Linked DNA regions of Homo sapiens. The protein of the gene in region 2 interacts with the protein of the main gene of each other region in a pairwise test. Each region holds a gene or a part of one and is shown on either strand. Other genes may lie near its edges.

Region 1 (7,920 bases), on a different chromosome or scaffold from region 2:
GGCACTTTTTAACGCTTCAGCAACAAACACCAGGCAGCTGTTGCCACTGGCCTCCTACCCCCTACTCTGGGGCTTGGGGGTCAACTCCCCCCAGGACTTACCTTCCAAAACAAACTTTCTTCACTTTGTATTATAGGTACAAGACAGCGACTTACGTATCTTTTCTCCTCCTCCCTAGTGTTCCTCCCCATTTTTTCAGAAAACACTTCTGACTCCTGTCCCTTCCCCTTCTGCTTTTGGTCAGTCCCTGTTCTTGAGCCTCTTTTCTCCTCTCCCCAGGATGCAGAAAGTGGTGAACCCAGGAACTGAGGAAGGAGGTTTCCAGTTCATTTACATTAAGGGCCCTGGGGGAGAATAAAGCTCAGAGCAGGAGGGAGTAAGGAAACATTTCCTTTTTGTTTTTATTTGGTTGGAGTTTCTCATATTTGAAAACATTGCGGTATCCATGATTTGGCCTTGTGGAGGGTGTTCCTAGGTAGAGGTGAGAATGGGGAGGCAAGATCTCAGGCACCAGGCAGGAGGTGCCTTGTAAGCTAACTGGGCGGAGGTGGAGGTGCAGTGTCAACTGTGGCTCTGTAACTCTTCAAAGGCCCAGTTTCCCCTCACGCAGCCTCTTAGGTAGCGTTTCCCCTAATCGTGGGGGTTGGACCCCAGAGTCTTCCAAAGAATTTTCACTGGTTGCCTGCATCTTTGGCTCTGCTGTGATCTGATTGGAGGAGGGACAGTTTCTGGTACCCATCCTCTGATTTATACATATGCATTTTTTCCCCTCTGGCCTTTAGATGGCCTCAGCCCCAGCCACCATATACCCCTGCAGTTTGCACTTTAATTGATGGTAGTTCAGTTGGGGTACTTGTTTTATGGAAGTTTTGATTGATTTACTTGCCCTCCCACCTTCTTTTTAATTCAATGAAATCTGAGGTTAATGCGAGGTTCGAGGAGAGGTTATAGATAAAACTACCAGTGGCAGCTACTCAAGTCCTATCTCCACTGTTAGCTTCCTCCAACTCTAATTATTAACCTATATTCTTGCCAAGCTAACTATTGACTATAGGTTTGCCTTTCCTGGAGAATTAATTGAGCAATTGAGGAGTGTCTCAGGATAGCACAGGCCAAGGTAGGGGAGTAAAAAGGAGGTCAGGCAAAAGGGAGGAGTTTTCTGTCCTTTCCCAGGTTTCACACTCAATTTGATATCCATTACCATGTCTTTTCTACTTCCTTGTAAATAGGTATGATCTTTATTCCCACTGTACAGTCTGTTCTATCCTCTGCCTCCCATCAGGCCCTGTTTCTTTGTTCCTTTGTTAATATCTTGAATTTAGTCCCTCCATCCTTAATCCCCCCATCCCTCCCCATCATGCAACCAGTGGTTTAATCCATGTACCAATAGGGGCTAGTACCACAGAGGCCTCCTGTGGTGCCCTCGTATCATACCACCTGTTCCTGTGGAGAGGGAATGACCGGCACTGAAGGTACCTTACAACTGGCTCATATTATCAGAGGACCTTGGTCCTTTCTAAATCTCTAGTCTCTCTTCATATCCTTCATCAGGTGTTTTAAGATGTCTCTGAGAAGCCATCAAGGCAAAAGAGAACTTTAAGTTCCTTGTTCCAGCCCGGAGTTTTGGGAAAGAAAGAAAGGAAAGGTCACAGTGACCTAGGATTGGAACCTTCCTGCCCTTTTGGCTTGCAGACTGCCTTCTATCCCAGAACAGCTGAGAAATCTATGAAGCTGAGATTCTGAAGGACCCAGCTTAGGTTCTTCCACTTAGGCCTCAATTCCCTTCCTTTTCCAGGGGCAGCCTTAGTTCCCATGGCCCTGAAACACACACATTTCCCCCTTCCTTTCCCAGAAGCCACTGGCCCCCCATAGCACCCAGTGCATCCTTTTTACAAGTGGAAGAACTAGGATGGCTTTCCAAAGTCTTCTAGAAATGAAGTTCTTTCTCTGTGCAGCTTTCCCCCTTGGAGCAGGAGTGAAGATGTTTCATTATCTTGGGCCTGGGAAACCACTTCCCCAGGCTTCTCCCTCCCCCCACCCCCATAGGAACAGGATTTGGCCTTAGCTTCTGGGCCTATCGGCTGCCTTCCCTCTACTTCCTACCACCTCTTCTGCCTTCCTTTGAGCTCTGTTGGGCTTGGGGATCTTAGTTTTCTTTTGTTTATTTCCCAGCTCATTTTTTTCTTCTGGTCAGTTTTTTTAAGGGGGGGTGTTGTGGTTTTTTGTTTTTGTTTTGCTTCTGAGAAAGCATTTGCCTTTCTTCCTCTCCCAACATAACAATCGTGGTAACAGAATGCGACTGCTGATTTACCGATGTATTTAATGTAAGTAAAAAAAGGAAAAAAAGAAAAGGGCATTGGAGTGTTGCTTTTTTTTATTTTATTGTTATTATTATTATTATTTTTGCTATTTGTCAGGTACTAGGAATTTGGAAGAAAGGATACCCAGTAATGTTCTACTGAATCAGAAACACACCTTTCCCTGCATCTTGATACATCTTTATTCCCTTTAATCTTTTCTTAAACATCTAGTTTAGAAAATAGCCCTTCTATTGCTATTTAATCACCCCTCTTCTAAGGCCACTAGATTGTTCATCAAATCAAACCCTATTATATCTTTTTAGGCCCTCTTAACAGAATGTATATGTGTAGGGTATGGTCTGTGGATCTTTGGGCCCACTGATCAGATTAGAGAGAGGGGTGCTATTTGAAGTAGTATACAAAAATGTATGTGCATATTTCTTTTTTTTTTTTTAATTGAGACGGAGTCTCTGTCGCTAGCCTGGAGTACAGTGGCACGATCTTGGCTCACAGCAATCTCCGCCTCCTGAGTTCAAGTGATTCTCCTGCCTCAGCCTCCTGAGTAGCTAGGATTACAGGCACGCACCAACACACCCAGCTAATTTTTGTATTTTTAGTAGAGACGGGGTTTCACCATGTTGGTCAGGCTGGTCTTGAACTCCTGACCTCGTGATCCACCCACCTTGGCCTCCCAAAGTGCTGGGATTACGGGCGTGAGCCACTGCGCCCGGCCGTATGTGCATATTTCTAGGATCCATTTCTATATGTTTCTCAAAGGGGTCCATGACCCAAAGGTTGAAAAACATCACTGAGTTAGTTTTCTTGTAGCTTCCACCTCAACGGGAAAATTTCCTCTGGATCTGCTCTTGACTCCTAGTGTACTTCAAACCCTTCAGTCCACCACAGTCTAAAGGTCGAGGGAAGGGAAATGAAATAGGATTATGTGTGGTTGCAGTAGGCTTTAAATTCCAAAGAATCTGAAGGTGGATAGGAAAGAGGACTGGTGCCAGACAAATCTGACATTCTAGGCCTGTCTCTGTCAACTTAACCAGCTGTGGCCTTGATCAAGTTAGTTAGTGCCTTCCGCCTCGTTTCTTCATCTGTAAAGTAAAAGCTGAAGATTAAGGTCAATTATGTAAAGTATGTGTGTCACACAAAAGTAGATGACACTATTAGGAAGGAGGCTTTTAGATAGTCCCTAACTGACTTCTCTGTATCTTCCTTTGGCTGAGACTTTTTTTTTTTTAGGTTGAAGCTCGCTTTCTCTCTCTCTCCCTCTTTCTCCCTCTCTCTCTCTCTCTCACTCTCTCTCTCTCCATATATATATACATATATATATATATATATATTTTTTTTTTAACAACTGGTAGGATAGGTTGGGCATTAGCCTTCTTCAGTGATTTGATTGTATACAGATTGAAATCCTTTCCATTTCCAAACACTTAAGAGCCAAAGCCAACTTGCCAACTTTTCACTGTCGGTTCCCTTACCTTATATCTCTTGGTAATACCCCCCACCCCCGTTCCCTGATTCCTGGTAAAAGCTCTAGTTGGAGAGCCGAAAGGAAAGGAAATGATCTTTCAAAATTAAAGGTGAACACCTTCACTTAAACTGATTAAAATTGCAGCTCCACCGTCCGGCCTCTAGAGGGCAGTGTATGGATACATTTGTCCAGATTGGGGGACTAGGTTTGATAAATTTTGTCCTGCATCAAATGACAAAAGGGTAATAGGAAATGTATTATATTTATGCCCCTTACTTTGAGATAAGAGACTACAACCTTCATACTTCGGGGTGTTAAGCTGCCATTGCTCTTGTTAAGGGGCAGTTTGTTTTTTAAGAGATGGGGTCTTGCTCTGTTGTCCAGGCTGGAGTGCAGTGCCGCGATCTTGGCTCAGTGCAACCTCGAACTCCTGGGCTTAAGCGATCCTCCCGCCTCAGCCTCCCGAGTACTGGGACTACAGGCGTGTGCCACCAAGGGGCGATTATTATTTTTTTTTTCTACGCAAAATAAAAGACGGCTATTCAGTGTTGTTGTTTCATTTTTGTTTGGGGAGAAATTCGACTAGCCCAAGGAATCTCAAATTCTTGGAACCACTATTTTAGGCATTTCTGTTATCATTCCTGGAATACGAGAACTAAGCGATTGACTTTGCTTTCCCTAAAAGATAAACAGGGTAGTTGTAGTTGCAACAGAGTAGATAGAGGTAGGTCTACCCTGGGTTTAAAGTGGAGATCACAGCCGGGGAAAACCGGACTGGATCCCGAGGCCTCCTCCAGGGAGGGGCGGCAGGGGTGTCTCAAAATCTCCCACCTGTCAGCCCAACTTTTGGATTCCTTGTCACCTTCCACACTGCCCGAGCTCCGGACATACAGCCCTGGTGCACAAGGGTCCCATTCTTTGCACACCAGGGGTATAATGGACTCCGGACTGTTGGCGAGAGTGACAGCAAAAAGAGCCAGCCTCTTCTCCCAGGCTTCTTAGCAACCTGCCTGTCTCGGCTCCAGGAGGCGGGTTCCAGCCAATGGTTGAGCCACCCGCTTCCAGCCAATGGCTGAGGGATAAGCTGAGGGGAGTGAGAGGTCACTTACTGCAGCCGGACATAACGGCGCTGGCCCCGCCCCTTCTCGAGAACTCGCAGAGCTGGGCTGGTAAAATTGCAGTGCTGAAGACACTGGACCCGGTAAGGAGACTGGGGGTGGTAAAGAAGCTGGGGAGGAAGGGCTGCTGAGCTGGGCAGCGGAGGGGGCCTTGGTGTCCAGCTGTGCTCCGAACCTCAAGGGCAACAAAACTATCAGTACCTGCCTCCACTCCTTCTGTCTGGGTGCTCTTGAGATCGCGGGGTGTTGCCGCAAGACCCTTTTGTGCCTGGATGCCGGACGTATGTTCCTACCTAACGTGCCCATGGGGAGTGAGGGGTCATCACCTGCACCAACGGGTGGCATTTCTGTATTACAGCAAAAGGCTGTCCCTCCCAAACCTGGGATTCTGGGCTCACTGAGTTCACCTGCGAGTCAGCCCTACCTGCACTGCTCTGGTCTAGTACAAACAGGCTGCTGGCATTGAGGTAGGTGGCAGAGAGAGTAATGGTCCCATGGCCCAGGGGCAAGGTGAAGACTGCTCCTATTCCCATCTCTAGGTTTCCTTTCCTCCCTACCCACGACCCACCCACCCCAGCACATTGGTCTCCAGCATCTCATCAGCAGTTTAGACATTTGTCACCCCTCCTCACTTTGGCCCTGCTGGGTCAGTGCTCTCTGTTCAGCAATTTGAGGAAGAAACTTGCAGGGCAGAGAGCAGAAAAATTACCTTCCTTCTCCAGCCTGCCCCTGACACTCTGGCCATTAACTCCTCAATTTGCTGAGCTCACTACAGTGGCACAGAGAAGATTGAGGTGGTCCGGGACCCTAGGTTGGGGTCCAGTTCCCAGCTGGGTTCAATTTTTTTTAGGGTGAATGGAGGGAGAGTTGGGGACTGAAAAGCCTTCAAAGACAATGTTATTACAGCAGTCTCCCCTTATCCAAAGTTTCCTTTTCCTGAGTTTCAGTTAGCTATGGTCAACCGCTTGGAAAATAGTTGAACACAGTACAATAAGATATTTTGAGGCTGGGAGTGGTGGCTCATGCCTGTAATAATCCCAGGACTTTGTGAGACCAAGTTTGAAGGATCACTTGAACCCAGGAGTTTGAGACCAGCCTGGGCAACATAGTAAGACCTCATCTCTACAAAAAAAAAAAAAAAAAGACCATGCATGGTGGCACACGCCTGTGGTCCCCGCTACTCAGGAGGTTGAGGCAGGAGGATGGCTTGAGCCCAGAAGTTTGATGCTATAGTGAGCTGAGATCACGCCACTGCACTCCAGCCTGGGCAGAGCAAGACCCTGTCAGGGGCAGGGGGAGGGGAGGGGAAGCCGGACAGTGGCTCATGCCTGTAATCCCAGCACTTTGGGGGCTAAGGCAGCAAGAGGCCAGGAGTTCAAGACCAGCCCTGACAACATAGACTCCCATGTCTACAGAAAAATTAGCCAGGCTTGGTGACACACACTTGTAGTCCCAGCTGCTGGGGAGGCTAAGGCAGGAGGATGGCTTGAGCCCAAGAGGTTGAAGCTTCAGTGAGCCATGATCGACACTTGCTCCATCGCCCAGGCTTTTTTTTTTTTTGAGACAAGGTCTTGCCCTGTTGCCCAGGCTGGAGTACGGTGGCGCCATCATAATTCATTGCAGTCTCGACCTCCTGGACTCAAGCCATCCTCTCATCTCAGCACTCCTCTCCCCACCACCCCGGTAGCTGAGACTACAGACAGGCACCACCATGCCCAGTTAATTTGTTTTTTTTTTTCTAGAGACACAGTCTCACTATGTTGCCCAAGCTGGTCTTGAACTCCTGGAGTCAAGTGATCCTCCTTCCTTGGCCTCCCAAAATTTTGGGATTATAGGCATGAGCCACCATGACTGGCCAAAAAAAAGTATATTTTGAGAGAGAGACCACATTCATATAACTTTTTTTTGTTTTTGTTTTGAGACAGGGTCTCGCTCTCTGTTGCCCAAGCTGAAGTGCAGTGGCACAGTCAGCTCACTCTGTAACCTCAAACTCCTGGGCTTAGATCTTCTCAGCCTCCAGAGTAGATGGGACCACAGGTGCGCTCCACCATGCCCAACTAACTTTTTATTTTGTAGGGACGGAGTCTCCAACTCCTGGCCTCTAGCAGTCCTCCTGTGTAGGTCTCCCAAAGTGCTAGTGTGTCCGGAATTGGTGGGTTCTTGGTCTCACTGACTTCAAGAATGAAGCCGCGGACCCTCGCAGTGAGTGTTACAGTTCTTAAAGGCAGCGTGTCCGGAGTTTGTTCCTTCTGATGTTCAGATGTGTTTGGAGTTTCTTCCTTCTGGTGGGTTCGTGCTCTTGCTGGCTCAGGAGTGAAGCTGCAGACCTTCACAGTGAATGTTACAGCTCATAAAGGCAGTGTGGACCCGAAGAGTGAGCAGCAGCAAGATTCATTGTAAAGAGGGAAAGAACAAAGCTTCCACCGTGTGGAAAGGGACCCAAGCGGGTTGCCACTGCTGGCTTGGGCAGCCTGCTTTTGTTCTCTTATCTGGTGCCACCCACATCCTGCTGATTGGTAGAGCCGAGTGGTCTGTTTTGACAGGGTGCTGATTGGTGCGTTTACAATCCCTGAGCTAGACACAAAGGTTCTCCACATCCCCACCAGATTAGCTAGATACAGAGTGTTGATTGGTGTATTCACAATCCCTGAGCTAGACATAAAGGTTCTCCAAGGCCCCACCAGAGTAGCTAGATACAGAGTGTTGATTGGTGCATTCACAAACCCTGAGCTAGACACAGGGTGCTGATAGGTGTATTTACAATCCCTGAGCTAGACATGAAGGTTCTCCACCTCCCCACCAGACTCAGGAGCCCAGCTGGCTTCACCCAGTGGATCCCGCACTGGTGCTGCAGGTGGAGCTGCCTGCCAGTCTCGGTGCCATGCGCCCGCACTCCTCAGCCCTTGGGTGGTTGATGGGACTGGGTGCCGTGGAGCAGGGGTCGGTGCTCCTCGGGGAGGCTTAGGCCCCACAGGAGCCCACGGCGAAGGGGGGCTCAGGCATGGCGGGCTGCAGGTCC
Region 2 (7,308 bases):
AGCGAAAACGGGGCCGGGCGAGAGTGGGCGGGGCGGCCCGCCTGAGGCGTGGCCCGCGGGGCTAGCCCGGGTCCGTCTTACGTAGCCTGGGCGGAGGCGATGGGCTCCTGGTCCAGCGAGGGGCCTTCGGCGGACGAGGTTGCGGTGGCAGCGGGGGGGCGGGTACCTGGCGGGGTGGGGGAGCCGCGGCGGGGAAGGTGCTACTTCTGGGAAAGAGCGGGGACAGCAGCAGTGCCAGCTCGGGGCTGGCCAGGCAGGGCAAGGCTCCCCGAGTCGGAGGCGAATAGGCTCCCACCGGGGACAGGCGGACGGGCAGCAGCTGCTCCTCTGGGGGGCTCGGCGCCCCCAGCAGCCGCAGCCCGGCGCCGGGCCACCCGGCCAGAGGAGCCAGGAGCAGAGACCCAGCTGCGCCTGCGCCCCCACCCTCCAACAGGGGGCGCCCGTCGGCCGAGAACCGGAAAACCAGGGGCCGAGGGAGCAGGAGGGGACCGGCTGCAGGCGGGATTGGCGGGGCCAGGCGCAGAGGGAAGGAGGGCAGCGGGATGGGCAGCCAGGCAAGAAGGGGCGGGAAGAAGAGGGAGCAAACAGTTAGTCCCATAACCCAATGACCCACCCAGTTTCCCTTTCCCGGAGCGCTCCCTGGTAGAAGGGGCGGGGAGGATGGGTGACACAGAATGGAGGGAAGACAGGGGGCCGGGTTGGAAGCCTAGGAGGCGTGAGCGGCCGAAGCCCAGCCCTCCTCCCGCTTCTTGCGACCTCTTACCCTCCAGGCCGGCCTGCGCGCCCGGCTCCTTCGCGGCTGGGGCCTCCTCGCCAGCCGCTGGGCTGACAGCCCGGCCCTCCTCGGACTGCCCCTCCGCTATGGGCTGCAGTCCAGGTCGGTTCTTCTTCCTTCGGGGAGGGACAGGCGGGGGTGGGGGCCGGGGCGGGACCAAAGCCCAGCCAACTGGGGGGTCTCGAGGCGGGACTGGCGGGGCTGGGGCCCGGCTTCGGGACCGGAGTTCCTTGAAGGTGGTGACTTCCCGAGGAGGTGCCGAGGAGCCGCCCGGCGACCCCGAGGGGGGGAGCTCGGTGTCGGGCGAGAAGACTATGAGCCAGTCACTGCGATCTTTCTTCGCCTGCGGGACAAGGGGCAGCCCTGGGCCCCGCTTGCGCTTCTGGGCCAGCTCGTGGAAGGACGTGATTGTCCGGTGGGGCACCGGCTCCTCGCTGACGTCACTTCTCCATCCTCCATCAATTTTCCCTGCATCTGTTTTCGAGCCAGAATCAGTTATTCTTGTGTTGGTTTTCCAACCAGAGTCGAATTTTTCAGGTTCACTTTTCCAGCTAGAGTTAACATTCCCGTTGTTTTTCCAACCAGTGTTATTGTTTTCAGTGGTTTTCCATTCAGCTTTAGTTTTCTCTGTGTCAATTTTCCAAATTGGGTTAATCTTCCAACTGGGCTCCGTTTTCCCAGCGTCGATTTTCCCATCATCCGCCTCTAAGAGCTCAGAGGTAGGGAGATCCTGCTCCGCCCTCTCGTCCTCTTCCTCCAAGCCTGGGGAAGGGACGTCCTGGCAGGTGGTCAGGGCGTTGCAGTTCGAGTCCAGGCCAGGATCGGGTGAAGAAGAAGCTCCGGAGCAGGAATCAGGAGAGCAGCAGAAGCTGTCCGGTGAGCAGGTGCCAGGGCCTGCTGAAGCCAGTGGGGAGCCCTGCTCCAGGGGGATGATACTGGGCTGAGGGTGGGCATCCTCATCACCAGGGAGGTCCCGCAAGTAGACTGAGACAGGGGACTCATCGGGGCTAAGATCTGAGCAGGAGCTGAGTGAGGAGGAGCAGCCTGGGTCTGAGGGAGAGGCAGCCCCCTCTTCCTCCTGTGACGGGTCCTGCCGGTTTTCTAGGCCCGGACCGTGCTCCTGGCAGCACCGGCAGGGCACAGCTGGGCTGTTGGAATTGGCGTCCACCAGGGTGCCACTGCAGGGGCCCCTGCTCTCCTTGCCCCCAGTGTCTCCTGGAGGAGGGGGTGTGCTCAAAGGCCCCTCCTGTAGCTCAGGACGGCGGGACAAGTGCAGGCCCAGGGAGACGTGCTGGAGGTGGATGTGGTTGAGGTTGCAGAGTAAAGCTCTCTGAGGGGACAGCATGATGCTAGCGGCGATGGGATGGCTTCTAGAGAACCAGAAGGGTAGGGTCTCTCACATCCACCTACCTGGCAACCACAGGTGCAGACCTAGAAGACAGAGGTGGTGAAGCCCGGCCAGTGAGGACAAGAGCTGCGGGGAAGGACACCGAGGTGACTTGACGGCAGCAGCAGGCCTGAAGGCTCTGGCTGCTTTGGAAGATATTTCAATGAGATGCAAATCGCAATCGACTGACCATTAGTTTCCACTGCAGTGTTTGCAGATGGAGTCGAATGTAACCCCCCGGGAATGGAGCCGGGAGGGTCAGAGAACGCGGCTGCGCTCTGGATCTCCGAAGGGGGGCGGGGGCCTGGAAGAGGTCCGGGCCCAGAATGGACCTCCAGGTCCCTGCTGCCGCAATCTGGCCCTGCCCTCCAGCCTACCCCTTACTCCCAGAGGAAGGGACCCAGGGAGACCCACCCAGATGCCCTGAAAGGAGGTGGAGGATGGGGGTGGGGCAATACGCAGAGTTTGTCTGGTGAATGCAGGAAAGGGGTGGGGGCTGGAGAGGAAAAGGATGGAGCAGCCGTCAGCTTGTCAACTCCGCATCTGCTGGCTGCCTCGGCCGGGCTCCAGCCTGCGCCCTCGCCCCTCGGAACAGCGGTATGTCCATTCTCTCCGCATTCGTCTCCATCGTTCAGCCACCACCGCACCCTTTCTCTATTCATTTCTCCTGCTCCCTTGTCCTGCCCCGCCCCTCGTGCCCAGGTCCATCGGTCTACACCCATGGGCCGAGCCCTCCTCACCAGGGTCCTCCTGGAACCGCTCCGGCCTTGGGCTTGTCCGCGGCTCCCACGGTCCCCGCCCGGCGGGGCACAGAGCGGGAGGGGAGGGGCACTAGCACAACCTACCCTGCGCTGCGCAGCTGCACCCCTTCGCGCATGGGCGTGGCGTAGCTCAGACCCGCCCCCAGCGTTTAGCGTCTTTTGTCACCCACCTAGAGGGTTTGATATATCCTAAGCTTTTGGCCCCTGGGTCCTGGTTCCGTGCAGCGAGTCCTCCCAGCACCCCACCCTGCACATTCTGGAAAGAGCCAGACTCTGGCTGGGCCGAGCAAGAACAGAACCACAAGAAGGTTACACGATTATTTATTGAGAGCCTCCTCTCCCCGCCCTTGCAATCTCTAGGTCACTTTCTCCGCTTGTAGATTTTGCGCGCAAGCCCCAGAAAGACGGCTGGGGGCAGGGGTGCTGCGTACTGTTCAATGAGAGCCATAATGTGGCTGTAACTGTCTTCCTCATATTGCAAGAACACTGCTGGCAGATCCAGCTCCTCATATAGCGCCTTCACCCGGGCCACTTTCTCAGCCTCCTTCTGCCCGTAATTTTCCTGGAAGAGGTTGAAAGACAGGAAAACGGGCTTGGCCTTCCCCAGAGCCTCCAGGACCCCTCCACTCCCCTCATTCACATATTCCAGAACATCTCCAAAGCCACCCACTCCTTTCCTCCCTCCAATTTTCAAGTGTCTCTACGTAGCTAAAATCCCAAGCTTCCCTTCCCTATCCCAAATATTGCCTCATACCAGGCATCCTCTACTCCAGGGTTTCTCCACCTTGGCACTATTGAAATTTGGGACCAGATAATCCTGTCTGGGGGAGCTGTTCTGTGTACTACATGTTTGGCAACATCTTTGGCTCCTGCCAACTAGATGTCTGTACCACATGCACACACACAGAGTTGTAATGACAATGGCAAAAAATGTCTGCTGACATTGCCAAATGTCCCCTCGGGAGGAAAACTGCCTCTAGTTGAGAACCACTGCTCTATCCCTTTCCACCAACTCAGGGACCCACCACCCTCTCTCAGGCACCTTCAGGATCTGGTACTGTTCTGGAGTGGCCCGTTGCAGACACTGAACCACCAGCCAGCTGCATTTGTTGTCCTGGATGTCAGTGCCAATTTTGCCGGTCACACTGGGGTCCCCAAAGAGGTCAAGGTAATCATCCTGGGCAGGGAGGGGGAGGGCAGCAAAAGAGGAAGGATGAGGTTCCTGGGCAGAGGAGGAGTGAAGCTGGTGCCTGTTCTCTGCTACTGCCTCCTGCCTTCTTACCTGAATCTGAAAGAACTCCCCCATCTCCAGCAGGATCTTCTTGGCATTGGCGTGCTCCTTCTCGCCATCAATTCCTGCCTGCAGGGAAAGGGGGGTTAATAAGCCAAACCCCAGGGGTGCCGGCATCTTCCTGGCTGCTTCCTCCCATGGGGTCTTGCCCTACTGCAGCCCCAAATCTTTCCTCTCTCTTCAGACATCTTGGCTTCCCTGACCTAGACAGTCCTGACTGATGGTCCAACCTCAATCCCACTTATTTTTGGCTAGGCCTTCCTGGGAGTCATAAAAGAGATGAATCCATTCTAGAGGTGCACAGCCTGTCTCTTCCCTCACAAATGTCAGTCCCCAAGTCATTCTGATCCACCTTCCTAATATTTTTGCCACCTCCAACTTCTTTCAAGATGAAAAGGAAATGTAGAGAAGCAAGGTCAGGGTAGACACTTAATCCCACTGACTGTCTTTAATCCACTCTTCTCCCTCTCAACCTGGATGATCTCCACACTCCTATCCATACTCAGATACAGGATATATTGTTCCCCTATTATGTGCTAAGCACTTTCATATCCCTTGCCTTGCTTAATCTTTACAGTCCTGTGAAGTAGGAATTTTATCCCCAGCTGAGGAAAGAGACTGAGCGAGACCGACTTGCTCAAGGTCACACAGTTTTTCACCAGGGGTAGCAGTGTTCACGTTTTCTGCTCTATGCCTTGCTGTCCAAAAGCCCCCATCAGCAGAGCAGAGAGGGGTGAGGAGGCTCACTCACCATGTACATGGCTGCAGCTATAGGAAGGTAGAAGGAGTAGAAAGCTGTCTTGTACTTGACAATAGATTTGTACCTGAGTAAGGGGAGAAGAGAAACTCCTCAGGAGGGCAATGCACATCCTGAGCCCTCCCTCGCTGTCCAGACATGGTTCGCGCTGTCCCTCACCTCCCCTCACCTCTTTTCAGTGAATCTGACAAGATCCACATTGCCCTGGGGGGCTGTGAGGAGGTCCAGGGTCTGCCCAATCTCAGTCTGATAGGAACTCTAAGCAAGACAAAGACGGTCCATGAGCCAGGCTTTCTCCAGATATGCGAAACCCTGGTATCCCAAGCCCAACATCCCATACCAGCTGACAACTGGGCAGAATCAGAAAGGCAACAGAAGGGGAGAAAGCCCCAAAACTTAAGGCCCATATTCATACACACAGTCCTTTATCACCCTTTCTTCCAATTACACAGGACAGAGAAGCCCTTTCTTGCCACTACCACAACCCCACTTCCCAACACCCTTCCTCGCTTTCTTTCCCTTCCAGGCACGCTGCAATCCTGTACCCTGAAACCAGCTAGATGAGCATGTCCTATAGAGGCCAAGGCTACCATGGGCACCCTCTGGGCATCGGGCCCTGTCTGCAATACACCTGCAGGAAGAGCTCGATCAGGTTCAGGTAATAGGGCTGCTCCCGGCAATAGAGCTTCAGCAGGCGGTAGATACATGCTTCCAGGAGGTTAGCATCATTGATGGCATCCAAACCCACGCCCGGCTGTCATGACAGACAGAAAAACAAGCAATCAATCTCTAGTCTCGGTTCATACTAAGAGCCATCACCCCAACACCTCAACCAGGCCATATATAACCACCTCCCTGTGGCCTGTCCCCATACCCACTGCTATTTTCCTGCCCACATTACCTTCTGATACCAGCAGATCTGTCCCCGGCGGGTAAGGGATGAATCCATGATGTCATCTGCCACCAGGAAGAAAGCTTGCAGCTAGAAAGAGTGGAATAAGACCTGCAGGGCTCCTCATTACTGTTCCTTCTATCAGCAACAGAGCTGCTACTTTATATCTGTATATAGTTTTGCTTTTTTTTGGTAGGGGACAGAGTCTCACTATTATCCAGTGCAGTGGTGCAGTCACAGCTCACTGTAGCCTCTAACTCCCAGGCTCAAGTGATCCTCCCACTTCAGCTTCCTGAGTTCCTGAGACCATAGGCACATACCCCATGCCTGGCTATTTTTTTTTTTTAATTTATTTTTTGTAGAGACAGGGTCCCACTATGTTGCTCAGGCTGGTTTTGAACCCCTGGGTTCAAATGATCCTCCTGCCTCAGCCTCCCAAATTACTGGGATTACAGGCATGAGGCATCACAGCCGGCCAGAGCTGCTGCCTTTGACAGTCCCTATGAGCTGGGAAAGTCAGGATGGGGAGACAGAAGACTTCTGTGCTATGGAGACTTGGAAAGTGACATAACATGTTTGGCTCAGACTCCCCGCCTATAAAATGGAACTAAAACACTCTTGTTTTAGGTTAAGAAACTAGAACAGATCTTTGACATCTCTAATGAGCCCTAGATTATTCCTGGTGTCAGGGAGATTAGGAAACACCTTCATATACCGTACTCTATTCTTGCCAAAAACCTCAATGAATGCTTAAAGTAAGATCTATTCATGAAACTGACTTCACATTACTTCCTAAATAAAAGAAGGCTATTCCCACATTGCCCCCAGCACTGTGTTTGAACACCCTGGTGACTAGGAACACAGCCTTACCTAAAGCAGCTCCTTAGCAGTGCAGGTCTAATAAGGTGGAACTGAAATCTGACTTTGACCTATGAGTCTCAGACATCTTTAAACATCTTTAAACATTAACTAAGGGCTTACTCTTCTGAGTGCCCATCTGAAGGTACCTGAACGTGTCGGGTTTCCCACTAGACCATGATCTCCTTGGAAGCAGGGACAGTAACTTCCCCCTCTTAGCATTTGCAGAGCCTAGCACAGCATTAGGCCTGGAGTGAGAGTTTCCTAAACACTTGTCTGACAAAGAAATTAATAAAACACTCTAACATTCCCTGTGATACTTCTTGCAGTCAGTCAAACTATGTTTTGGTTCCTTAAATAGCTTTTCTTTTTTTTTTTTTTTGAGATAGAGTCTCACTCTATCACCCAAGCTGGAGTGCAGTGGCGCCATGTGGGTTCACTGTAACCTCCGCCTCCCAAATTCAAGCGATTCTCCTGCCTCAGCCTCCCAAGTAGCTGGGACTACAGGCACCTGCCACCACCAACTGCTAGGCCAGCTAATTTTTGTATTTTCATTCAGTAGAGACTGGGTTTTGCCATGTTGGCCA
Region 3 (7,996 bases), on a different chromosome or scaffold from region 2:
CGTAGGTCTTCACTTCACTGGCATTGACCACTTTACCTTGAAAGGGCCCAAACCTGACTCCTTTGGCGATAAAACTACTGCAGAACACACCAAAATGTGGGACTTCACCAAACACCGTCTGCATGAGGCATAGACCTAGGGGAAAGCCGAGGCAGGAAAAGAGAATGAGGAGAGTTGACTCTGCATTAGTTCAGGGAAAGAAATCCATGCAAGGAGTCCTGCCTACCTTCTGGAAGTTGAAGGGAGTCTTTATCCAGAGTTTGAGGAAGAGAATCAGATCCTAGCAAAAGGCAGGTTAAAACAATTTTTCATTAAAAATGCATTATAAAGTGCTTTTATGAGGTGTTTCCCTCCTTAATTCCCTAAAGGTAACCATCATCCCAGTTTGATATTTATTTGTTGTTTCTATTTTTCCCTGCTCATTTTACATGGTCTGTTCATACACGATTTCACTGTAAACAATTCCATATACAATTTCTCATTTGAGACTCAGAACAGCCTCATGGAAGTTTATGTAATTAACCCCATTAGGCAAATTCAAGGAATTTGAGGATCAGAGGTAATGCCTGACTAAGGTCAGCGTAGCTAGCTGAGCTGGGACTGTTAGGTGTGAACTGCTGAAGGCTGTCATTGCATGTTAGCATAGAATCTGAACCTACCTGGGAGTTCGCTGCAGGAACCATTTCTCTCTTGGTCCTCAGCTCTCACTAAAACCAACCTTAGTCATGCAGTTAAGCAAGCAGGGCCTCAGAAGTGAGCCTAGAACAGCCCTGGCTCTCATGGAGGTACTTCCCCCTTCCCGCACTCTGCAGCCTCAGCTCCACCTGGAAGCGCCTCTTCCCGGACACTCCCGTTCCCGCCTGCATTCCCGTCCAATTCGACTCCCAAATGGTGTGAACTCCCTTTACCAGAGCTGTCTGGGGGGACCAGGAGGCCTGAAATCGCATGGTGCAGGCTGGCTGGGTGCTCCAGGCTGGGAGTGACCCCGTACAGAACGAAGTGCAGGTCCTCCTCCGTGAACTGGAACCGAGCAGGGGACTTCCCTTCTTGGTTGGAGGGTTTGGGACCATCCTCTGACTGCTTGCTGGGTGAGCAAGGTAATAACTGGGAGGTCCTCAGCCCCTCAGGTAACAGAGAAGCATCCGCAGGGGGCGGTGGAATTAAAGTGTCAGGTCCACAACACGGGCCACTCTCGTTGTCGCCACCAATGATTTGGTGGCCCAGATCTTCACTGCTGGCACCCGCGTACTCGTGGCTGCTGCTCAGGAAGGGCGGCACTTCCCTGGGGACGTGGGGAATTGGGTACCACGGTGGCAGCTTGCTGTACCAGGGCAGATCGTAGAGAGGCTCCCTCTGTAGGCCCAGACCCGGGCTCAGCAAGGGAGGCGCCATCCGGAAGGGGAAGGGGGGCATGGCGGGGGCAGCAGACGCTGCGGCCTCCAGCTGCCGGAAAGGTTGGAAGTCTTCCTCCACGGTGGCCAGGCTGTTTCTGTAGTGTCCATAGGACGGGAAAGGCGTGTAGTACGCGGCCAGGTTCTGCGGGCTGCTCTCCGGCGGGTAGCACACCTTGTCCTGAGGCACGGCCTCACTTGGCCGGGGTAGAGCCATCCCGGGACCGCACGCTCGGCGGCTCTGCAGAAAAGCGGGCGCCGCTGAGGACACCGCGCGGGAGCTTCCCGGGGTCCGACCCGCGCCTCCCCACCAGCCTCCTCCACCCCAGCCAGCCCCAGATCCAAGGGAACAGGATAAACGCCCCCAGTCCGATCCCGCCAGCCCGCTCCCACAATTAAGACAAAACGAAAAAACAGCAATAGAAGCAAACACAAAAAAGCCCCAAACGGAAATCTGCCGGGATCCTGCCCTACTCTAAATTCCGGGTTAGTGTTGCCTTCCCCTTCCCTCTCCAAGCACCCCTTCCCTAAGCCCGGCCGCCTTCCCACACCCGCTCTCCGCTTTCGGCCCCCAACCCGGTTCCTGCAAAACCCATTGAAGTTCCCTTTCCTTCCTTCTTCTCAGTCCTACAAAACTCGTTGGTAGGGTCTGTGGGAGCCGCGGGGCCCTGCCAACCTCGGGGCTGGGCCGGGAGCCGAGCGCAGGCGGTCGGAGGGCAATGGAGCAAGCGACAGCTCCAGGCGCTCCTGGGCCCTCGGCTGGGAGGGAAGAGCCGAGGACCCTGGGTCGCACCGCGCAGATGGAGACGCGCTCCCAGAGCCCCCGGGCAGGTCCAGGGACCCCGCGACCTGCTCTGGCCCAGCGGTGTGACCCCGCGGGTCCTGGCGGTCCTGACTGCCCGCAGGGGAGGGGCGCGCCACTTTTGGCTGCCCTAGGATGCGCCGCCTGAACCTCTTTTCCCTCGCGGGCAGCGTCCGCCACATTCCCCGGGTTCCTCGGAAACTCCAATCATTCTACCAGGACTATTGGGGCCTGGGGTAGCCCCTCGGGAGCCGCGTGGACGAGCCCTGGCCAGGTGGGAGCGAAGAGCCTCGGCGACTGCCAGTCCTCCCGCCCCCGCACCGCCGGGAAAGGATGGCGTTTTAATAGACAGGCAGCAAGTTCACCGAGGCTGAAGAATGAAGCCCCTTCAGGGCCGGCGGGTCTTGAGATCAATGAGCCCAATAAGAAAACCAAGCAGGGTCATGACTCAGAAATTAAAGAACACGGGGTCAGGAGAAGAGGTCAGCCACGACACAGGCAGCGGCCCGTCTCCTCCCGATCCTCCAAAGGCGCCCTTCTCCTAGCCTCCTCCGACCTCAGGGATCTGCAACTTGGGATTCAAAGCCCCCGAGAGGGCAGAACGACCATCCAAAACGAACTGCGCCAGCGAGTGCTGCCGCCCTCCCCAACGGCCCTGGAAGACCACCGCCCCGGGCCCCAGGCGCGTCCTGTCCCGTGCCTACCTCCGACACCACCTCCAAGAGCGCCACCGCGGAGCGGGCGCCTCCTGGACGCTGCGGGGCCACTCGGGCTCGGTAGGCCACTCGGGCTCGGTAGACTTCGGGCGGGCCCTGAGGGCTGAGCCAGGCTTAAGAGGGCGGGCGGGGCCGCGGGGCATCGACAGGTCGAGGGTAGGGAATTGACCCGGCCCACGCAGATCCCCGCGTCGTCTTCTCCCCGCCCACCGCAGCCATTGGCCGACTCTCGACTCGCCCTCTGTCCCCTGGGGTCGCTCACTTAACTCATCAGTTTTCCAAACCCTCCCTGGGACCCTAGTGGCGAGCACTCGCCGCTGGCCTTCTAGGGCAGGCAGTATTGCCGCTCCAGGCGTGCGGAGTCGGGGAGAAAAAAACCGAACACGTGTGCTACCCAGGGCCCCCAGATAAGCCCCTCCGCGCGCACACACACCCTGAACCGGAGTCCAGAAGGCCGGACTCGCGTCCCGGGGTCGAGCCCCTTACTCTCCGCTCCCAGTTCGGAAGATCCCAGCCTGCCCGAAGGCGGCGTCTGACCCGCTGGTGGACCTGGTGGGTGTCTGTTCCTGATACCTGGGGACGAGGCGGGAGCGCCTTGAGCGCTGGGAAGCTTCGCCTCGCGAGTCCCCGGCAGTGACACGTGGGAGCGTTGGGCCCGGCACCCCCGACGCTTCCGAGGTTTCGGGTGGTCGTTTTGCTCTCTCGGGGGCTTTTATTCCTTAAGTGGCTTTAAACGACCGAGGATGGGCCTCCCGCGCCGCCGCAGCTGTCACTTCCTTCGGGAAAGGCTAGCGACCTTGGACGCGCAGGCTCTGAAAACCAAGGTCCAGACCCATACCGAGCGCCCAAAGACCGCATTTGAATTCTCCTCGCCGGCCATTGAGGGAGAGAAAGGAACGCTTAGTTCCATTCACATTCACAGAAAGAAGCGCCGAGGGTGGGGGAAACGCAGTCTTGCCGGGTGAGCCGGGACAGGTTCCTCGCCTGCCCCCCGGCCGCTGCTTCCTCTTAGCTGAATGGGGAGCGACCCGCCCCGGGCGCGGCCTTCGGGGCTGAAGACTGAGGTGCAGCCTCACCCCCGGCCTGGCAGCGGCTTGGAAGAGAGAGGGAAAGGAGGAACATCTACCCGGCTAAGAGACGCCGCCAGAGTCCCTAAAGCTGGCGGGGGACGGAGGCCGGGGTCCCGGATCTTCAGAGCGCCCGCAGCCGGGCTTCTGGGCTCCTCGGTGCGGGGAACCTGACCCTGTAGCCTTCGCCAGGGCGCGGCGGGGCTGCAAGAAGGGAGGAAGGAGTGGGACTAGAGCCTTCGAGGGCGCGGGCGGCGTGCACTCAGCCTTGTCTCCCCGCGCGCCCTGCCGCCTGCTTGCCCCCTTTGCTGCACCGGGTGGCCCTGGTCCCCGCGCCCGCCCGCCCCCGACGCCTTCGCGTGGTTCCGCGCTGCCCGCGGCCAGCCCCGTTTCGCTTCGCAAGGAGCGTGTTGTTTTCTCAATCGAAATGGGATCAAGATCCCAGGGTTTCCTCGTCTCCTTGTTTTGAGGTGATAGGATCTTAGCCAATAGATCGAAAACGTGAAAAGTACCCGTCGCCTCTTGTCCCAAGTGCCTCTGTGGAAGGATCATTTACTTGGAAAAGCAGAATAAATTCTGTTGCCGTTTTCCTTCCGGAGGCGTGCTCACCCCAGAGCTCCTAGACCCACTGGCATTCGCTATACTTCCTCCTGGGCTTTACAGGTAGGATTTCAAGAATGATATGGGGGCACCTGGGTGATCTGTGGGTTGCAGGTCCTCAAGAGGCCGTTTTTTCGTGCACGGAAGTGTCGTAGCTTTATTTTAGCGGAAGCAATATCAAACCTTATCTTAGAGGTTTGTTTTGCAAAGAATCCAGAGTTTACTATATTTGACACTATTTTAAAATAACACTTGCTTGTTTTAAGAAGTTGGGAGAAATCGATAAAAGAAAAGTTGAAATCCATGCTTCCCATTTCTACTCTAGGAGATAATCCTGATCAACAGTTTGGTTTGCTCCCTACCCCCATTCCTTAAAAACAAACAAACAAACAAACAAACCAAAACCCACTATACTTTTAGATTGTGTAGGATTACGTAGGATTTTGTAAAAATAAAAATGGGATTATACTTCACTCGTTTCTGCAACGGCCTAGCTCCTACTAGTAATCATTCCCTATCAGTATAGTAGAATTAACCTTATTTTAGTATTATCATTATTATTTTGAGACAGGGTCTCACTTTGTCACCCAGGCTGGAGTACAGTGGCATGATCTTGGCTCATTGCAGCCTCTGCCTCCTGGGCTCAAGCTGTCCTCCCGTCTCACCACCCGGCCCCTTCCCCTCAACTAGCTGGGACTACAGTCATGCGCCACCAAGCCCGGCTAATTTTTGTATATTTTTGTGGAGACAGGTTTCACCATGTTGCCCAGGCTGATCTCAAACTACTGAACTCAAGGGATCCACCCACCTTGGCCTCCCAAATTGCTGGGATGGCAGACCTGAGCCACCACACCGGCAAATTTATTCTTTATAATGGTTGCGTGGTACAGAATTTCCATTTTATAGGTGTGCTCATAGTTTATCAGCCTCCTCTTGAAAGGTATTTAAGTTGTTGCCAGTTTTTCAATACTTCTGGCAGTGTACAGAAACACTGATACAGATACATAGTTGTGCTACTGTGCCTTGTAGAAGAAATATCCAGGTGTGAAGTTGCTGGATCAACAGGTATAAACACTGATCATTTAAACAAGTACTTCAAGACTGGGCGCAGTGGCTCACACCTGTAACCCCAGCACTTTGGGAGGTTTAAGTGGGTGGATCACTAGAGGTCAGGAGTTCAAGACCAGCCTGGCCAACATGGTGAAACCCCATCTCTACTAAAAATACGAACATTAGCCAAGCATGGTGGCACAAGCCTGTAATCCCAGTTACTCGGAGGGCTGAGGCAGGAGACTAGCTTGAATCCAGGAGGCAGAGGTTGCAGTGAGTCAAGATCACGCCACTGCACTCCAGCCTGGGTGACAGAGTGAGATTCTGCCTCAAAAAATACAAAATAAACAAGTACTTCAAACCATACCAATTTATACTTCCTCCAGCAGTGAGGGCAAGTGCCTATTTCTCCATGCTTCATCTAATACCGAATATTGCCATTCCTTTTTTTTTTTTTTGAGACAGGGTCTCACTCTGTCGCCCAGGCTACAGTGCACCTCAACTGCCCCAGCTCAAGCGATCCTCTCATCTCAGCCTGTCTAATTTTGTGTTTTTTGTAGAGACAGGGATTTCACCATGTTGCCCAGGCTGATGTCAAACTCCTAAGTTCAAGTGATCCACCTGCCTCAGCCTCCCAAAGTGCTGGGATTACAGACATGTGCCACCACGCCCGGCCTTAAATTTTTTTTTCTTTCATAGAGACAGGCCCTCACTCTGTCACTTAGTCTGGAATGCAGCAGCATGATTGCGGCTCACTACTGCCTCCAACTCCTGGGTTCAAGCAATTGTCCTGTGTCAGCCTCCCCAGGAGCTAGGACTACAGGTATGTGCCACCACACCCGCCTAACCTTTTAATTTTTGGTAGAGGCGGGGGTCTTGCTATATTGCCTAGGCTAGTCTCAAATTCCTTGTGTAAAGCCATCCTCCCACCTCAGCCTCCCAAAGTACTGGGATTACACGTGTGAGCTACCACACCTTGGGAGTATTGCCAATTCTTTAAAGCTGCCTGTCTTTCACATAAGAAGTAAAATCGTATTCTAATTGCCTTTTAGTCATTTACATAACAAAGTTTCTTTTGAATGCCTGCCTATTGATGAGCCAGTCAGCAAGCCAAGCATAGGGAATACAATTGTGAACAAAGCAGTCTTGATCCCCTTAAAAGCCTAATGAAGAAGGTCTGTATGTGTGTGAATACTTGATGAATGAGTCACTATGAACTGCAATAAGGAGGGAAGAAAGTGTAGTACAAGTAACGAGCCTCAGTCTAGGCTGGGAGTACAGGAGGGTTCTCCCAACCTATCAAATTGGAAAGATGTGTAGAAATGAACTTGGTGAAGGGGATGAGGACAAGTGGTACTCCAGGGCCACAGAACCCTTGGTGCTAAGGCCTTAAGCCTGGAGGAAGCTTGGCTGATTCACAGAACTGGTGCCAGGAGACAGCTTGAGGTTGGAATGTCAGCAGACACCAGGTCTTGCAGAGAACACTTGCTAAGATGTAAGTATCCTTACAGCTTTACTTCCAAGTATTCACCAAGAAGTAGTAAGAAGTCACTGCAGACATCAGCATACTTCATCACTAAAGAACTTCAGCATGCATATCATTAAATCAAATTCAGCATTTTGTTTATGGTTCTTTTTTTGAAAGGTAAAATTTACATATGATGAAATGCATGTATCTTGGCTGTACCATAAATTTTGACAGTTGATGGCTGGGTGCAGTGGCTTATACCTGTAATCCCAGCACTTTGAGATGCCGACGTAGGGAGGTCCCTTGAGTCCAGGAGTTGGAGACCAGCCTGGGCAACATGATGAAACTCTGTCTCTGCAAAAAAATACAAAAATTAGCTGGGCATGGTGGTGCATGCCTGTAATCCCAGCTACTCAGGAGGCTGAGGTGGGAGGATGGCTTCAGCCCAGGAGGTGGAGGTAACAGTGAGCCAAGGTGGCACCACTGCACTCCAGCCTGGGTGACAGAGTGAGGCCCTGCCTCAAAAAAAAAAAAAAAAAAAAGTATTGACTGGGTGCAGTGGCTCACACCTGTAATCCCAACACTTTGGGAGGCCGAGGTGGGTGGATCACTTGAGGTCAGGAGTTCAAGACCAGCCTGGGCAACATGGCAAAACACCATCTCTACAAAAAATAGAAAAATTAGCCATGTGTAGTGACATGCCAGTGGGAGGCTGAGGTGGGAGGCTGAGGTGGGAGGTTCACTTGAGCTGGAAAGGTGGAGGTTGCAGTGAGCTGTGATCGTGCCACTGCACTCCAGCCTGAGCTACAGAGCGAGAACTTGCCTCAAAAAAAAAAAAAAAAAGAAGAAAGGAAAAACATTTTGACAGTTGTATAAACAAGTGTAGCCTCAATCCCTATCAC

The links.
Region 1: the proteins of RUSC1 (region 2) and SUOX interact in binary tests that used the Homo sapiens proteins (3 or more experiments, as listed by UniProt).
Region 3: the proteins of RUSC1 (region 2) and PRDM14 interact in binary tests that used the Homo sapiens proteins (3 or more experiments, as listed by UniProt).

The regions. Positions count from the first base shown.
Region 1 is NC_000012.12:55,992,356-56,000,275, forward strand, and holds the start of SUOX (sulfite oxidase, mitochondrial), read left to right. Parts: upstream 1-4,920; 5' UTR 4,921-4,984; intron 4,985-5,259; 5' UTR 5,260-5,368; intron 5,369-6,977; exon of another isoform or gene 6,978-7,103; intron 7,104-7,920. UniProt on the Homo sapiens protein: Catalyzes the oxidation of sulfite to sulfate, the terminal reaction in the oxidative degradation of sulfur-containing amino acids.
Region 2 is NC_000001.11:155,316,586-155,323,893, reverse strand, and holds the start of RUSC1 (AP-4 complex accessory subunit RUSC1), read right to left. Parts: upstream 3,001-7,308; 5' UTR 2,903-3,000; exon of another isoform or gene 2,207-2,902; 5' UTR 2,121-2,206; coding exon 764-2,120; intron 493-763; coding exon of another isoform or gene 82-492; exon of another isoform or gene 49-81; intron 1-48. Other genes in the region: FDPS (farnesyl pyrophosphate synthase), read right to left, coding at 3,285-3,485, 3,966-4,100, 4,206-4,283, 4,966-5,038, 5,141-5,229, 5,603-5,725, 5,873-5,953. UniProt on the Homo sapiens protein: Associates with the adapter-like complex 4 (AP-4) and may therefore play a role in vesicular trafficking of proteins at the trans-Golgi network. Signaling adapter which plays a role in neuronal differentiation.
Region 3 is NC_000008.11:70,068,253-70,076,248, forward strand, and holds the start of PRDM14 (PR domain zinc finger protein 14), read right to left. Parts: upstream 3,001-7,996; 5' UTR 2,898-3,000; intron 1,633-2,897; 5' UTR 1,609-1,632; coding exon 909-1,608; intron 281-908; coding exon 227-280; intron 136-226; coding exon 1-135. UniProt on the Homo sapiens protein: Transcription factor that has both positive and negative roles on transcription. Required for the maintenance of embryonic stem cell identity and the reacquisition of pluripotency in somatic cells.